Regions from separate parts of the Homo sapiens genome. Here region 1 is linked to region 2. Evidence: fine-mapped expression QTL. A gene starts in region 2. The other region holds a variant in brackets. All regions are shown on one strand. Distances are between the middles of the regions.

Region 1 (9,499 bases), 43 kb after region 2:
AACTTTCTGGGAAGATATAAATATTCTCTATCTTGATAGGAGTTTGGATTATATAAGTGTCTGCATTTGTCAAAATTCACTGAATGGTATACTTAAGATTGTGCATCAAAGCTGGGCATGGTGGCTTATGCCAGTAATTTAAGCTACTTGGGAGGCTAAGGTGAGAGGATAACTTGAGGCCAGGAGTTTGAGACCAGCCTGGGCAAAATTGTGAGACCCTGTCTCTACAAAAAAATTTTAAGAATTAGCTAGGCCTAGTGGCATGCACCTAGAGACACAGCTACTCGGGAGGCTGAGGTGGGAAGATTACTTCAGCCTGGGAAGTTGAGGCTTCAGTGAGCCATGATAGCACCACTGCACTCCAGCCTGGGTGACAGAGGTCTGTCTCCAAAAATAAATAAATAAATAAAATACAGATTGTGCATCTACTATATGTAAAATCTTACCAAGAAAAACTCATATACATGACTCTAAATGATATGCATGCTGAAGTATTGAATGAAGTATGTTGATATCTACAACTTACCTTGAAATGCCTCAAAAAAAAAGATGGATTAATGGATGGACAGAGGTATCAACAAATAGATGGTTGAATAAATGTATAATAAAGCAAATTAATTGCTAATTGTAGAATCTAGATGGTAGTGGCTGAATGTGGTAGCTCACGCCTGTGATCCCAGCACTTTGAGAGGCCAAGGTGGGCAGATGACATGAGGCTAGGAGTTCAAGATCAGCCTGGCCAACATGGTGAAACCCCATCTCTACTAAAAATACAAAAATTAGCCGGATGTGGTGGTGCACAGTGCACATAATCTCAGCTACGTGGGAGGCTAAAGCATGAGAATTGGTTGAACCCAAGAGACAGAGGTTGCAGTGAGCTGAGATCCCCCCATTCCCCATTGCTCTCCAGCCTGTGCAACAGAGGGAAACTCTGTCTCAAAAAAAAAAAAAAAGATGGTGGATATATGCAAATTTGTTGTTTCTGATTATTTCAATTATTCAGTATATTTGATAATGCTTATAATAAAATGGTGGGAAAACTATTTACCAAAACAAAACAAAACAAAACAAAACAAAACAAACCTACCTGCCCGTGGAGGCCACCAAGGAAGCATGGTTAAAGTCTCTCTTCTCCCTGTCAGTCATGTCTAAGTCAAGAGTCTCCTAAAGAGCCCAAACAGCTAAGGAAGCTCTTCATTGGAGGGTTGAGCTTTGAAACAACCAATGAGAGCCTGAGGAGCCATTTTGAGCAATGGGGAACGCTCACGGACTGTGTGGTAATGAGAGATCCAAACACCAAGCGCTCCAGGGCCTGTGGGTTTGTCATGTGTGCCACTGTGGAGGAGGTGGATGCAGCCATGAATGCAAGGCCACACAAGGTAGATGGAAGAGTTGTAGAACCTCACGCCTATAATCCCAGCACTTTGGGGGGCTAAGGCAGGCGGATCACGAGGTCAGGAGATCGAGACCATCCTGGCTAACACGGTGAAACCCGTCTCTACTAAAAATACAAAAACTTAGCCAGATGTGGTGGCAGGCGCCTGTAGTCCCAGCCACACAGGAGGCTGAGGCAGGAGAATGGCATGAACCCGAGAGGCGGAGCTTGCAGTGAGCTGAGATGGCACCACTGCACTCCAGCCTGGGCGACAGAGCAAGACTCCATCTCAAAAAAAAAAAAAAAAAAAAAAAAAAAAAAAAGAGTTGTAGAAGCAAAGAGAGTTGTCTCAAGAGAAAATTCTCAAAGACCAGGTGCCCAGTTAACTGTGAAAAATATATTTGTTGGTGGCATTAAAGAAGACACTGAAGAACATCACCTAAGGGATCATTTTGAACAGTATGGAAAAAATTGAAGTGATTGAAATCATGACTGACCGAGGCATTGGCAAGAAAAGGGGCTTTGCCTTTGTAACGTTTGACAACGGTGACTCCATGGATAAGACTGTCATTCAGAAATAGCATACTTGAATGGCCACAGCTGTGAAGCTAGGAAAGCCCTGTCAAAGCAAGAGTGGTTCTGGAAACTTTGGTGGTGGTCATGGAGGTGGTTTCAGCGGGAATGACAACTTGGGTCATGGAGGAAACTTCCATGGTCGTGGTGGCTTTGGTGGCAGCTGTGGTGGTGGTGAATATGGTGGCTGGGGATGACTACAGTGGATTTGGTAATGATGGAAGCAATTTTGGAGGTGGCGGAAGCTACAGTGATTTTGACAATTACAACAATCAGTCTCCAAATTTTGGACCCCTGAAGGGAGGAAACTTTGGAGGCAGAAGCTCTGTCCCCTGTGGTGGTGGAGGCCAATACTTTGCCAAACCACAAAACCAAGGTGGCTATGGTGGTTCCAGTAGCAGCAGTAGCTATGGCAGTGGCAGAAGATTTTAATTAGGAAACAAAGCTTAGCAGGAGAGGAGAGCCAGAGAAGTGACAGGGAAGCTACAGGTTACAACAGATTTGTGAACTCAGCCAAGCACAGTGGTGGCAGGGCCCAGCTGCTACAAAGCAGACATGTTTTAGACAAATACTCATGTGTGTGGGCAAAAAACTCGAGGACTGTATTTGTGACTAATTGTGTAACAGGTTATTTTAGTTTCTGTTCTGTGGAAAGTGTAAACCATGCCAACAAAGGGTTTTAATGTAGATTTTTTTTTCACCTATGCTGTTGATTGCTAAATATAATAGCCTGATTGGGACGCTGAATAAATGTCTTTTTTTTTTTTAATGTGCTGTGTAAAGTTGTTCTACTCTGAAGCCATCTTGGTAAATTTCCCCTACAGTGTGAAGTTAGAGTTCCTTCAGGGTGATGCCAGGTTCTTTTTGGAATTTATATACAACCTGCTTGGGTGGAGAAACCATTGTCTTCAGAAACCTTGGTGTGGTTGAACTGATAGTTACTGTTGTGACCTGAAGTTCACCATTAAAAGGGATTAGCAAAGCAAAATCATGGAATTATTGGTTATTAAAACGATTGTTGGCATATCCTATGCAATATATCTAAATTGAATAATGGTACCCAATAAAATTATAGATGGGAATGAAGTTTGTGTACCTTCCATTATCATGCATAATCAATAAACGATTTAATTCTCTTGAAAAAAAAAAACCTGAAAGGAAACACACAATTGACTTCAGGTGTTGACACTTTGGAAGATTTTTCAAGTTATTTATAGTGACAGATATTAATGTTATAAAGAAATAAATGCACTTTTTATTTTAAAAACTCTACCATTTCTCTGAAGAAGAAACAAACAAGATTTTAAAAAATCTTATACTAGTCAGTAGAGTATAGCTTTCCAGCTAAGCAATGAAATCATTTTAAATGGTAAACTTTATATTAAAGATATGAAGAAATGAACATGATTGTCCCATAGTTAAATCATTTTACTGCAGATAAATTGCCTGAAGCACATTTTCTTTGATCGTTCATAGGGATTTATATTTTTAAACAGGTTGAAGTTTAGATGTCCTCAAGAGTGTCACAGTCTAATTATATCATAGGTACGAAGTAGTTGTGTGACTGTATTTAGAAAGCATAACCTTTCTGTTAGCGATATCTCTAAAATGCCTGACACTTTACAGAATACTGTGAAATCAAATACAGACTCTGCTGAGATGGTATTGAAACATTTTGCTGTTAGTCCACGGTGAATACTGGCCTTTAGAAAAGCATAAATACTACTTTCTGCATCTACCAAAGAATTAATTAAATCTGTTGCAGTCTTTTTGATCGTAAAAAATGATTGCTACAACTTGCTTAATTATCCTAATTTTTTTTTCTAGTCAAGAAAAAACTCCTGTGGATATAGGAACCTTGCCTTGCTTGATTGCATGCAGACTGCCAGGTAGTGATACTACCGAAAACTTGTGCTTCCATTCCTTAATTAGAGATAATTGCTGGTTGAATGGGCAATTTTCTTTCTCTTTGGAGAAAGGATCTAGATACTGTGCTTCAAACCAATTGTTCTGTTTCAAGTGGAAGTCCTCTAAGCTGGGACATGAAATGCCAAACTCTTATGCTTCAAATGTCTCCATTTATCCATTTAGGCAAAGCTAGATAAATTTTCTGAAATGGAAATTACCTCAGCATCTTTCTCTGATATTGACTAATTCCCACATCTCTTGTATCTATGCAAATTTTAACCTGAATCTTAAAAACAAACATTTTGGAGAAAGGCCCCTACTAATTTAAAAATTAAACAAACAAAATTCCCTAACCAACTTTACTGGAACCCATTACTTGCTTTTTCTTCTGAGCTATCAGCACTTCTTTCCTAGACTTTAAAGCTGTTGTTCCAATGTAAACAAATATATCTAGCTTGAACTCAGACTTAGTTATCCCTTGCTTTTGCTTTCTACACTAAAACAAAGAAATAAAAAATTTTGCTGAGAAGTGTTCTCGTTTTGAAAAATTTAAAGCAGTAACATTTAGCTAAAAGCTTTTGCCTTAAATCAGCTTATTAAAAAAAAAGAAGAAGAAGAAGGAGAAAGAAAGCATATTTTTGTAGGGA[C/G]CTGGAGCATAATAAAGTTTAAAACCACAAGGAACTTCTTTTCTTGAGTCACCTCTTCTTACCAAATAGTGGTTCCTATCAAGTGATTTCCTTTCAGAGTACATTTTACTCCCTACTTACAAACTCCTATAAACAAGTGTGTGTGTGTAACCCAAAGCCAGAAATCCACCTACAGGCCGGGAACAGTGGCTCATGCCTGTAATCCCAGCACTTTGAGAGGCCAAGGCGGGTGGATCACTTGAGGTCAAGAGTTCAAGACCAGCCTGGCCAACATGGTGAAACCCCATCTCTACTAAAAATACAAAAAATAAAAATAAAAAAAATAGTTAGGTGTAGTGGCACACACCTGTAGTCCCAGCTACTAGGGAGGCTGAGGCGCAAGAATTTCTTGAACCCCAGAGGCAGAAGTTGGAGTGAACCAAGATCGCACCACTGCACTCCAGCCTGGGTGACCAAGCGAGACTCGGTCCCCAAGAATAAACAACAACAAAAAAATCCACTTACAACTAGACCAGTTTCTACTTGGCTAAACACCCAGGATAGTCAAAGCTGGACCAGTTTCTACTTGGCTAAACACCCAGGATGTTTAGCTGTCCTTAAAATATATTGATACTGCATATTCTTTAAAAGAAATATATGGTAACAACTATTTTATTAAGTTTTCATTAGTCTAATCGAAAAATAGGATATTTTTCACACATGGAGATAATCCTACCTATTCTGCAAGTCAGTAGGTATTTCTTTCCAATTATTTAAATTAATCTGTTTGTACATTGTCCCTATGGTACATTAGATCATTGCTCTCAATTCTTTACCCCCTCCTTCTGTCAGGTGAACTTCTAATGGGAGTTATTTCCCTCTCTCATTGATGTTGGGCATAATTACATATGTGATTTGGTTTGATCAATTAAATGATAGCACACATGAGCATAGGCCTTAAGTAGTTTGACTTGGCCTCTTTTTTTTTTTTTTTTTTTTTTTTTTTAGACAGGGTCTTACTCTGTCACCCAGACTGGAGTGCAGTGGCACAATCTCGGCTCACTGCAGTCTCTGCCTCTTGGGTTCAAGCAATTCTCCTGACTTGGCCTCTTGCCTTTCATAATCCACCAGGAGAAGAATATGCCTCAGATAGCTAATGGGATTTGGGAACATGTGAAGCAGGCCTGATCCCAACTTGAGGCTTTGATATAAGCCCAGCTGTCCTGCAAAAGAAGCAGAGCATCCCAGATCATCCACAGGCTCATGAACAAGGAAAATAAAGGCTTATTTTTATGAGCCACTGAGTTTTGGAGCTGTTTATTACTCAGCATTGTAACAATAGCTGACTAATATATCCCATATTTCGTGTTCAGTGACATATATATCTGTGAAAATTGATTGATAGAATCATATCCTTATATTAACTCTCAGTCCCGCAATATGCAATGACAAGGAGCTTTGAAGACTCAAATAATCAAGTACAACCCAATGACCAGTGTTTTTTGCTAATATCAATGGGGACCCCAGACAAATAATAAACACTAGATAATATTCCATAATGAAGTTGGAGAAGAAGTAAATAGAGTACAAGAATCAACAAAAATGTAAGAAAATCCTAAAACCGTAAGAGCCTTATAAAAATAGCTGGAGTGGGCAAGAATGTGTGAGTTTAACCAAGCCATCTGCCTTCTGCTCCGCTGGCAAACAATTCAGTTATACAGTACAGCTCTTGATTAAATATAAAAACACTTCTCCCACCCTTTTTCTGTCATAATAATAATTTTGGTGCATTTCTTTGTATACATTGTTTTTTATATACTGCAAGAATTTTTCATGTGGCTAAAAACTACTGAGTCTCAATATTTTTCTGATTCGCTACCATTGACTTACCTAAGATATTTCCACTAGGACAATATAGATTACATATAATGTTTTTTTCATAATCGTTATTTGAAATGGCTGTATAATCTTCCATTGAGTGGATGCACCATAATCTAGTTAAACTATTTCCTGTTGTTAGATTTTAGGCTGTGACTAATTTTTCACTATTATGAATAATTTTCCTGTGAGAAGTGCAAACCGTAGGCATATTTTTTTAATCTCTGGATTATTTCCTTAGTACAAATACCCAGGAGATTCTACTAGGTGAAAGGATGAGAATATTTTAAAATCTCCTGATAGCCAGGTGCAGTGGCTTGCACCTGTCATTCTACTTACTTGGGAGACTGAAGCAAAAGGATCCCTTGAGCTCAGGAGTTCAAGAACAGCTTGGGCGACATAGCAAGACCCTGCCTCTAAAAATTACTAAATAAATAAAACTAAAAGATCTCAATACATATAGCTAAATCAATTTCTAAAAGACGTTTCTAATTCTACTGGTAATGTACTATAGTACTAACAAACATTAAATATTATTATAAATGTTGCTATGCTTTGTAGCCAAATGAATGGAAGGGGTATCTTATCACTTTTAAAATTAAAAGTGAGGTGGAACATTTTTCCATGTTTGTTAACTAGATGATCTCTTCTTCTCAATATCTATTTACTTTATTATACCACGAAGGACTTGAAGAGCTTTCAAGTAGTGTTTGTCAGTAAGAAAACATACTCTTTTTGTTTCTTTTTTATGTAGGTGTTTTGTGTGGGTCACTCCATGGATTCATAGGTGAATCTATTCCCTCAAAATGAATCTATTGGGAACATTCTTTAAAAAAAAACAAACAAACAAAAGTAACAGAGCAATAGCAAGATCTTTCTGAAAAAGAAATTGCTGGCACATTTTACCAGCATTTACCTTGATCCAAATCATTGAGTTTAGAGAGAGATCCAGTCAATTTAGCAAATCAGCCAAAAGCAACAGTATATGACAGATCAAATTCCATTGGAACAAATACCACACAGACTGGGCAATTCCAGGGGCAGATATAAGACAAATGAGGGGAAGTTGAAGGGAGATAAGATTGTTGGCTGATAGAAAGGAATTTCTAACAACTAACTCGAGCCCCAAATAGACAACAAAGGAGCAACAAAGATGCAAAGATGGTCAGGAGGAGTTTGGAGGATTCATGCAGGAGGGTGTGGGAGGCCTTGTGGTGAGTAGACTGGATAGGACCCCTAAAGTCCCTTCCAACTCTATTTTCCTTAGAGTGGCCCTTGGACCTGAACTTCCTGGTCCTGGGAATAGGAGATTGCTTTGTACAGGACAGAAAAAGAGGAAGAACCTGTCCCTCTCTTCTTGAGGGTGGGGCTGACCATAGTCAGAATTTTGAAATAGAGTTTATCTTTGGCATCTTCTCACTTCCCTTTCTGTACTTTTGCTTACCAGCTGCCCAGTATTCCGATGGGGGTGTTAGCCTCTAAGCAGTGCCACTCCTGCATTACTTCTTTCTCTTTAACCACTTCAAAACTCCCATTCTCTTAACACAGCTAACCTCAGCTAGCTGTTGAAAGGAAAGCAATCTGTTTGAACCATTTCACTCTAAAGCATGACCGACTGATAGTATCATGATCTTCCCAAACAGATACGAATTTTCAAAACAAGATGTTTCTAAAGCCAATGGCATCTTTAACAACATGTGGTAAATTAAACCCCACTTAATAACCCTTCTGAAGTTCAAGTTCCAGCTACATTAATTACTGTCCCTCAGTATTGAGGAAATTACTAGGCCATCCTGTGTTTCAATATTCTTATCAGAAAATGAGGAAGAAATACAACTAAACCATATAATTTATATAAGCTGCCTGGCATAATGCTTGACACATGGGTCTTATTGTTAGTTATTATTGTCCCCTTTGCAGTCATCCATGCAGAGGTGTAATCATGTATTTCTTACTCTCATAACGCATATTCCTTGGGCTGGGAGGTGAGTCTCCAAGTCAGAGTCTGGGCAGCTGACATCCTTGTTGTGTAAAAGGAGGATTTCCTCAAGTTCAGCAGCCTCTATTATCCTTTTCTATCACATTATTTCCTGCCATTACATTTTTTTCCATTCTCTTTACTTTGTGTTTTATTTGTTTGTTTGTTTGTTTGTTTGTTTGTTTGATGGTTGAATTAGGAAGTTAAATTTTGATTTGAAAGTTTGGTTAATTTATTCTCCATGTCTCTTCTTTTCTGATATGGACATTGAAAGCTATAGATTTCCCTCTGAACAACATGTTGACCATACCCCACAGATTTTGTAGAGTAATGCTTCTGTGCCCATTCATATTTATGTGATTTATAATTTCCATTTGATTTTGTCCTTAGCCCAAGAGTTATTTCATTATTGATTTGTAATTCATAAACAGTCTTATTATCTCTATATTCTTATAATAAATAAATGTAGCACTTTAGGCGTTAGAGGGCCAGCAAGCATTTGGTGGCTACACAGCCTCTTCTCTTCATCTTTAGAAATGATGGATCTCAAAAATTTCCATTAAGTACAGGTATGCTTTAAATGAAAATATGCTTCATTAAACATATTTTCAAAATAATGCAGTATTGTGCTTTCAGTAAACCACAGCAATAGCTATCCATTTAAATCATATCCTTCAACAACAAACCAACTTTGTTCTGTTAACATGGTGAAAAACGATAAAACCTATAATTAAAATAAAAGTATGCTAAGCCAGAAAAATAAAAATTGTGTGTGTGTGTGTGCACGTGTGTGTGTAAGAGAGAGAGAGAATGGGTGAGAGAGATTTATCTTCAACAATAAGCTAAAATTTGGCAATGTCTTATTAGTGGTTTCAGCCAAGGAAATCTAATTATGTAACTGTTGTTATTTTTATAGCCACATTTGTGAGTTCTCTAATGATTTTAAGATTGCCTTATCTTAATGAGAAAGCAGAACTGACATCCTCCCAAACTGGGCTAGTTGTTTACTTATTTGAAGATTTATCTTTTCCCTACAAGTACTAGAGTCCAAGTTATCAGCACGTTAATGTGACAGTTAAGAGGCCATACTCCACTGTATATTTGGATTGTATGGGGTGACCAGTGCTCTGGTTTGCCCAGGACTGGGGGTTTCCCAAGATA
Region 2 (9,499 bases):
GGTAATCTTTAATCACTCTTCTCCCCTCCATTCTCCCTTCTTATCCAATCCATAATAATGTCTTGTGACATCTCTGCAATCTGACTTATTTCTAAGTCCTCATTACTTCAGGGCTCAATTATTTTCCTACCTCTTTCTACCATTCTCTTTCCAATTCATATGAGACCTAGCACTGGTGCTGCTTTGATTTTCCTAAAATACTTATTTCAGCAAACTCTTTCTCAATTCAAAACTTTTAAAGCTTCTCCATATCTACAGGTCAAAGTACATTCTTCTCATCCTAGCATTTAAAGACATCCATAATCAAATTCCAACTACATTTTTAACACAATTTCTTACTACTCTTTCACACAAATCTTCATTTCAGTCAAGTTATTTATGTACTGCTCTCTGAACATATCATACATATATACATATTTTGCCTTTGCTTACCCCCTCTACCAGTTCCTTCCTATTATGCAAAATCTCTGCTCAACTCAAGTGGTCTTAAATATCTGTAACTTTTATTATTTAGCTTATCTGCCCAATTATACTGTAAGTCCTTAGGGAAAGGAGCCTATTTTATATTTCTTTATTTCTCTTTTGAATACAGCCAAGTACCTTTTACATTGCAAGTATTAACAAATATTTGTTTGGTGACTACAGTTCCTTATCACACAATCAACATGTATTTCTTGAATGCTGCCCATGTGCTCTCCACTGTGTGTTGTGGTTTTTTTTTAATCTAAGGTACTGCTCCTCAAAGAATACACAATCAACTTGAAAAGATATGGCTAACACTAGGGAAATAACTATCAAACAACTAAAGCATGGCATATAATTAAACCATGTGAAAATGTTCTAAGACTAAAGAGCTACAGAAATAGAGGAAAAAAAAGAGGGATGGAGAACATGGGCAAAAATTAAAGGATAGAAGAAGCATAGCTTATTATTAGAAAGTGTGGAAATCAGCTTACAAGCTTAAGGACTAGAGATCCTTAGACAAAAGACTAAATAAATAGGGCAGGGATTGATAATAGACTATCTTAAAAGTCAGGAAAATTTAATAAGTAGAAAATGGTAAGCCACTGAAGGTTTTGGGGCAAGGGAATGCTATAATAAGGAGTATTAGAGTGGAATCTCTATTGAGGATAAACAGAAGGAAGGGACACTGAATTCTCAGAAGTTCAAATGACTTTCAATATTCTAGGCTCAGGAAATGTGTCCTGGGATTCACACAGTAAAGGAGGGAAAGCAGAGATATGAGAAAGAAAGGAAATATGGACATTTTGAATGGGAATAAGAGGTAAATGAAAGAAGTAGTTTAAAGATGATGCCTAATTTAAAGCCTACATGATTAGAAGAAAATTAAGGGGTAGAAAATGGTAACTTTCACTTGGGGCATTCGGAGTTTAAGGAGATGAACAGAAGTAGAAGCAGAAGACCAGTACAGGAAAAACCAGGAAGTGACTAGTACAACAAGTTAGCAATAGGATTAGTTTTAAAATGAAAGAACTGGGCAGAAGTTATAAACATATTACATAGGAGAGGAAATATATTAAGCCATGATCAGCTGGTACTAGCTTTATATCAATAATTTTATCAGAAAAGCAAACTAAAAGCTAAGGCAGAGGTTTCCAAACCCATTCAGGGAGCTCTGAGTCTTAGCAAATTTTTCACGACACCCCCAGGCCAAAAGAAATAGGTTTGAACAACTTACTTAGTAGTTATGTCCTTACAACTTAGTGTAGAGCACTGTAGAACTTATCAAACCTTAGAATCAAATTGGACAATACCACACTGTCATTTCCTGTTCTACATTCATTTTCATGTAGTAGTTGCTTTTTATCGGAGCAACCTCTGAAAATACATCTTTACAAAGACATGACATTGTAGAAACGGGTGTAGGTATCTAATATTGAAACCATGAACCAACTCAAAACACAAGTTCAAGCCTGAGGTGCTCTGGGCACCTTGGCACACAGTTTGGGAAACTGGGAGCTAAGAGGAGGGGTCTAAAAGGGAGTGGGGAAGGGTGGGAAATGTAATGGGAGAAGAGCAAAAGAAAGGTCTTAGCACAGTTAACCACAAGGGGGCAGCACAATAATTGGTAGGGGCAACACAATGGGGGTTTAAGCAGAGACACAAAGTCAAACCTTTCCATACAAAGGCTGTAATACTCCCTCACCAGTTTAAGACCTTGAAGTCCTTTATCTCTTTATACTAGAAAGGAGGAAACACGAGTTACAGGCAGATCACCTTATGCAGTCATTCTGCCCTTCTCTGAATCTCCTTTGCCTCCCAGCCGTGATAGTAGCCAAGACTTTTATGACAGCCAGGCAGTTTACCACTTTGCATGTGTCTTACTCACTTCTCACAACAATCTTATAAGAAAGTGAAGCTAAAAGAGTCGTAAATAATATAACTCTTTTTTTCTTTCTTTTTTTTTTTTTTTTTAGACAGAGTCTTGCTGTGTTGCCCAGCCTGGAGTGCAGTGGTGAGATCTCGGCTCACTGCAACCACCACTTCCCAGGTTCAAGCAATTCTCCTGCCTCACCCTCCCGAGTAGCTGGGATTACAGGTGTGCACCACCACGCCCGGCTAATTTTTGTATTTTTAGTAGAGATGGGGTTTCACCATGTTGGCCAGGCTGGTCTCAAGCTCCTCACCTCAAGTGATCCTCCTTCCTCAGCCTCCCAAAGTGCTGGGATTACAGGCGTGAGCCACCATGACCAGCCGTAAATAATGCAACTCTTAAGTGGCAAGAACACCAGGATTCAAATCCAGATCTCACTCCAAAGCCAATGCACTTTCCTATTCTGCCTCAAAAGCATCCCACCTTTCAGTAATAGCCAGGTGAAAGAGAAACAATGTCATATTCCCTTCCCATATCTGAGACACCTGTCTCAAATCACCAAAGGCACACACACACAAAATTCCCTAATGAGTCCCTAAAACTGCTATAAATTGCAAATACAGGATATTCAGTTAGAGCAAAAACAAGCATGGTGTGCTCTTCTGGCCAGCAAGTACTGCAGCTTTCCTATTCAGGTAAATACATGTACTATTAAGGCAAGTGCTGGATACATCCAGTCTGTACATACGTTACACACCAACAGACAAATGCATGTACAAGCAAATAATTCTCACACTTAAAGTGGTATAAGGTGAGGCGGATGGGGGAAGGGAGGCCAAAAATTGATTATTCATCTTCAAATGTTCTGGGTGTTATATCAAAATACAAGCTGATCATCCCTTATCTGAAAAGCTGCAAAATCTGAAACATTTTGAGCACCAACATGATGCTACAAGGGGAAAATTCCCCGCATAGGTACTTAATACAAACTTTGTTTCATGCACAGACGTATTAAAAATATTGCAAATGACTTAGTGGCTGTGTGAATAAGGTCTATATGAAACAAACGAATTTCGTATTTACACTTGGGTCCCATCCTCAAGATGTCTGATTTTGTATATGCAAACATTCCAAAATTTTTAAAAAAAATCCAAAACACTTTTGGTCCCAAGCATTCTGGAGAAGGGATACAAAATCTTTATTTGCAGTAGCCCAACAACTCACTGTACAAACTTATTATGAAACCAAAAGCAATCATTTCCCTTATTCCCACTTCCAGTTTCCTTCTCCATACTCAGCCGCTCCTACCCTTTCATTCAGAGAAATGGAGTTTCTCCTAACAGATTAGTAATTACTGGAAAACAAACTGGGTAAATTCAACCGACACAGCAAGCTTAGGCAGATAAAACCATGAGGAAACATTCAATGTGGTAGCAGAAACCCCAGCAAGAATAGCTAACGTGTTCTCCCAAAAGCTATCTCTTATTGCTTGGAAATACTCCTCTTTAAAGGATTAAGAATCTCTGGCTGCTTAAGAAGAAAGGGTAATGGACAACGTTTTTCGTTTCTCTGCAAAGTCACGTTATGTGTAAAGCCAACAAAAAAATGTTTCTTAAAGGATCCAAGACGAACAACAAAACACCCCAAAATTACTCTCCCAGATCAACATTAAAAGTTTAGCACTGACATTTTCAGAAGAGTAAGCAACAATGAGCCCTGCCTCTCTTCACACGCTTCCAACCTTCCCTACGCACGCACTCCCAGCTCCAGACACCTTCGCCTTTACTGCAGCGATAAAGGACAGCACACCCACCGTCGCGGGAGGAGGAGGAAGAGCCTCTTTTTCTGCAGAAGAGAAACAGTTCACATCTTGTTCCTGTTGCCTGCTTCTGAAACCTAAAAACAGAAGCAGCAGTTAACTACTACCACATAAATCCAGGGGAAACAAATGCTTTTTCTAGGCTGTTTAAGTGTCTAGAAAATTTTAAAAAGGAATAAGGAGGCGGGAGCGAGGGAATTATAAGACACAAATGGAAGCAAATATCACCAGCAAGACTCGTTCTAGGTGTCGTCTTAAAGAGGAAGATTTTTCTGGCTCAGAAGTTTGCTGCCACTAGCAGGGGGCAGGCGGGACCAAAAGGTAGGAAGGGGGTGGAGAGACAGCTGCTGCCCCCCACCCAGAAGCCAGGCAGAGATAACACCCACCGGCTACACAGATCGGGCGACCAGAGCGCGCCCTCGAGCCCGCAGGGGCGGCTCCTACCCGGCGGGTCAAGGTCTGCGAAGCCCCGGGACGGGCACGGCTCTGAACGACCTCCAGGCTGGGCCCTCGGGGGCCCTCCAGTGTGGGCTCAGCTCCCACTCACATCCCTCGGCAGCGAGGACCAGGCCTCTCCCTGCGCCGCAGCAGCCCTCAGCCCCGACGCGCGCCGCAAGCCCGGGCCGAGGGGCCCGACCGGCCGAGAAGCCGAAGTGGCGACGCGAACACCCAAGCGAGCCGGGCGCCGGCCCAGCCTGTCAGCGCCGAGGGAGGCCGTTAGCGGCGTCCGCTGCTGCCCCCTTCTGCTCCTCTTCCTCTCTCCTTCCTGCAGCCCCACACCACTCCCACTTCGGGCAGCCGGGAAGCCCGTCACAGTTGTCTCCACCCTCTCCGGGGCCACACCGTCTTCTCAACGCCGCGGGCGACACTGGCTTCGCCGCCCTGCTAGCTTCGAACTCAGCCTCCCGGTTGGCCTGCAGTCTCCCCGAATGGCAGGAGACCGGGCCGGATAGAGGCTGGGGGAGAGCCGGACGCGCGTCCTGCAGTGCGCGTGCGCCGCTCGGTGCTGGTCGCGGGACCGGCAGGCGCGGGCCACGCAGGGCAGCTGCCTCTCGGGAAGCCGGCGAGCGCGCGTGGAGATTCCTGGGACGGCCCCTGGGCGTGAGCGCGCAAGGAAGTTAAGGCGGCGGCGCCTCGCGAAACGCTGGTGCCCGGCTGGAGCTAGGCGCCAGCGCTGGGCCCGGCCCTCACTAGATGGGCGGGTGTGTGTGTGGCCGCCGCCCTCCAGGGAAGCGGCCGGGAGTGACTCACCCTGGCTGGCTCCCCAGCGCGCAGCCTGCACTGGAGGAGGCCGGGCTGCCTCCGCGCGGAGACTCCCCTCCCGCACACTTCTCCGCTTTCGGCTTTTCCTTCCACCTCCCGGGTACAGCAGACCCGTCCTTCCCCAGTCCAGGCTGCTAGGCCGAGGGGAAGTGGCGCCGGGGGCCGGGGACAACGCGCTCACACACGCTGTTTCGTGGCAATGCGCCCTCGAGAGCCTGACTCCCATCAGCCACCTTGGCTGGAAAGGGGTGAGGGTGGGATGAAGCGCCCAGCCGCCTGCGGGTTGGCAACAAGGCCTAGCGAATGTTTCTCCTAGAGGAGAAACAACTTTACCGGCGTGGCCTGGTGTAGCCCGGGAGAGGGTGGAGACAACGGCTGTGACGGGCTTCCCGGCTGCCAAAGGGCCTCATTCATTCATTCAAATATTTACTGAGTGTCTACTAGGTGCCGGGCTGTAGGTCCCCAGAGATACCAGGTGAACACGACCCCACACACTCCTTGCCCTACTGGATTGTATTCTGATGGAAGCGACAAAACAACAAACAACGCTTTAAATGCATAATGTGCGGGGTGTGTAATTGCCACTAAGAAAATGCATAGTTTTCTGCTGCCATATACATAATAACAAAGAAAAGGAGTAGAAAGTGAGGAGGGGGTGTGCTATTTTACGGTGGCCAGGAACGATTTCCTAGAATAAGTGACATTTGAGCAGAGATCTGAAGGATGAGAATGAACCAGTCCCATGACTATCTGGGAAAAGAATTTCAGGCAGAGGGACTCCTGAAGGCAAAGACCTTGAGAAGGGAAAGTGTTTGGCAAGTTCAAGGATCAGGAAAGAGGTCACTGTGGCTGGAGGACACGGAAGGAGGGGGCAGTGGTAAGAGGTGAGGCCAAAGAAGTAGCCTGGCACCAGATCGTGTAGGGATTTTTTTCAAGTATTAGCCCTCTTTCTGTCAACCTAAATGAAGTGACGCATTCATAGCTCCTGTTTCCCCATACACAACTGATGCTGCTCTTCAGGTCTGTCTTGCACTTAATGGTTTCTTTAAATAAACCTCACCAAAGCAACTCCTGCATTTCTTCTTACATAAGACCCATTGCAAAAGGTCTTTAAGCAAATGATAGCAGCATAGGAAATTACTTGAATTCACCCTGAATCTTTTAAATAATGAACTAGAGCTGTATAAGAGGGAGGGATTTACAGGAAAATTGCATTCCTACGGCTACTGCTTCATAGGTAATATATGGGCAAAGTTAGTAAGAATTTCTAATTATTAATTGTGACTCAATGGCTTAGAATATCAAGGCCGCAATTACAAACAGTGACTACCAAAAGAGTTCCTTTTTTCCTGCAAACAAAAACTGCTACTGAGGTAAAAGCTAGAACACAGACCCACATAATGAAGAAGAGCTAAAGATGAGCTTAACGTCATGGGTAAATGAAAAGCATCACAACTGTGGAAATGGAAATGTGATATTTTGTGAGGGGAAGAAAATGCTTGTTTTAGAACTCTGAAACAGTATTACTTTCATTATAAGTGATGTTTCTATATTTTGCAGTGATATACTTATGTAACTAGGCATGGTATCTCTTACTGTCCACAGCCTGTTTGCAGGGAGAAGCCATTTGAAATTGGTGAATTGCAGGGAGAAGCCATTTGGAAGTGGTGAATATTGAGGATATTTTTGTGGGGGAGCAGGTTATTTTCTTAATATTAGAGATGTGGGTATGGAAGACAAGGTGGACAAGGGGTATATTATTCATAAGCCTATAGAATTGAGAAATCTTCTGTCTCCCCACATAGAAAGATGAAGCAACTTGCCTCCTGTCATTCAGAAAGTGAAAGCCTCCCTCATCACTAAGACATGATTTTAAGTCAATGCTAACCTGGAATGTTGAGCTTTTTTCACTCTGTATTAACAGAACTTTTGAGCTCTTTATGTGATTCCTGGTAGTGGCATCACTAGAAATTTGCTACTCAAGGCAAACATTTCAGGAAATTTCCCTTATTCTTTGATAATGATGAAAAGAATTCCAAGGAATTTGACCAAGTCTTTCAAAACATTCATACAATATGAAGAAACAAGAAATATGAGCTGTAAGGTAACACATTTAGATTCAAAACTTTGTGGCAAGATCTAATGGGAAAACTTAACAGCTAGTTGTTGACTGTGGGGCTGTGTGTAGTGTCTTGAGGTTTTGTCCTTCCAGTGTTGGCCAGCATGGCAGCAGTGATTCTTGACTGCTATGCCCAAACCTTCCCCCCACCCCAACAAGACTGCCTCAGTAAGTGTGAGATGGCGCATTGGCTTCTATAACTTTTTAACATTTTTAGGTGGTTTGACATAAAGCCACGGTTGAAAATCCATGGCCAAGGGTTTAAGAACTTACGCTTTAAGAGTCCAGACCACCCAGGTTTCTTTCAATCACAGCTTTTGCCAGGAAAGTTTATTTAGATTTTCTAAGCCTCTGTTTCCTCATCAGTATAATGAGGATAATAATCTCCCCTGTAGAGAGATTTTGAAGATTAGGTGAAAAAGTATTTTAAAACCCTTAGCACAGTTATCAAATGTCTATTATATCTGTGGCAGGACCAATTTACAGATATAACCAAGCTGGGAGGTATAAGAAATTTGTTGAATTTTATTAGGAAGATTGAAGTATTTGTCACAGTTTATTGCACTACACAGGACTGTGTGGGCTGGTAGGATAAGGGCTGAGTTGTAATAGAGATAAATGTGAAGATCTCCATTTGAATTTTAAAAAACAGAACTATATCATTAAATGATGAGACTGAAAACATCATTCTTAAGGAGGGACATAAATGTGAGCACAAAAAAAGATGCAGGAAAGTCCTTGGAAAGGGAAACAGGCTCAAACGAAGGGCTGGGGAGAAGTCCAGGAGTTAGTTTGTTTCTTTCCAAAACAGGGAAGATGTACTTTCCTGAAGGCAGAAAGGAATAAAATATGGAAAGAGGCTTATTTATTCCAAATGTAGGATTATAAGCCAAAAGACAAAGGCAAGGGGTATTAATCAAGTAGACAGACAAGCAAGCAATGTTTTTTTTACTACAAATCATCCAGATATTTTAGTACCATTTATTCCAAAATTTGGTTGGCTATGGCAAAGAAATTTTCCAATACCTCCTCGGTACTTCAGCATGTCCTTGTCTCTACATCAGTTCCCTTATCCTTACTTTCAATCACAAAAAGAAAAGGAAAACAAAAAAGATATTGCCAGTGAACAGATCCCTCATTCCCTTGAGATAACTGGATGTATTAAACTTTGGTGCTTGAAAACCAAAACAGTTTTCCCTTTGTAAGCCAAGAATTAATAACCTCTTTCAAGTGAGGATAATTATTTGGCAAAATATGTAAAATGACCATTATAACTATGTGCTACTTTTAAAAAATTTAACTTAAAACTGTTAGACATATAGTTGCCTATTCACGAAAAACATTTTTTGTGTGTGTGAAAGGATTCATGCCAGCATTCACTCTTAAAAACAAAATTTCGGCCAGGCGCAGTGGCTCACACCTGTAATCCCAGCACTTTGGGAGTCCAGCGTGGGTGGATCACAAGGTCAGGAGATCAAGATCTCCTGGCTAACATGGTGAAACCCTGTCTCTACTAAAAATACAAAAAATTAGCCAGGCATGGTGGCATGTGCCTATAGTCCCAGCTACTCAGGAGGCTGCGGCAGGAGATTCACTTGAACCTGGGAGGTGGAGGTTGCAGTGAGCCGAGATCATGCTACTGCACTCCAGCCTGGGCAACAGAGCAAGACTCCCATCTCAAAAAATAAAATAAAATAAAATAAAAAATAAAAATAAATCCCTAGCATAATTGTTAGTTTACAGAGACTCAGAGACTTAATTCCTGAGTCCTAATTTAGACTAAGGATTCTGTCCTCTTTGCTGAGAACTGTCCTCTTCACCCAGAGTAGCCAGCCTCTGGCACCTACGTTCTAGTTTGTGACACCCTGCTTCCCACAACCCCTTGATTGGACCAAGCTGAGCCATCAGAGTCTCACTCCTGGGGAATTTGGAGTTGGGATTCAAAAACAGCAAATCAGACTTT

What was found.
Region 1: its variant is fine-mapped to the expression of JAK2 in whole blood (TOPMed, PIP 0.96).

The regions. Positions count from the first base shown.
Region 1 is chr9:4,937,551-4,947,049 of GRCh38, reverse strand. It overlaps the pseudogene HNRNPA1P41. Among named protein-coding and RNA genes, the nearest start is that of JAK2, 43 kb to the left of the region's middle. The variant C/G (reference allele first, on the strand shown) is at 4,504.
Region 2 is chr9:4,980,672-4,990,170 of GRCh38, reverse strand. It overlaps JAK2 (Janus kinase 2), which reads right to left and starts at 4,899. Exons shown (of 25, transcript NM_004972.4): 1 at 4,541-4,899; 2 at 4,149-4,231. RefSeq lists enhancers at 4,097-4,146, 4,947-5,086, 5,015-5,848 and silencers at 4,477-4,806, 5,197-5,276, 5,317-5,366, 6,817-6,946.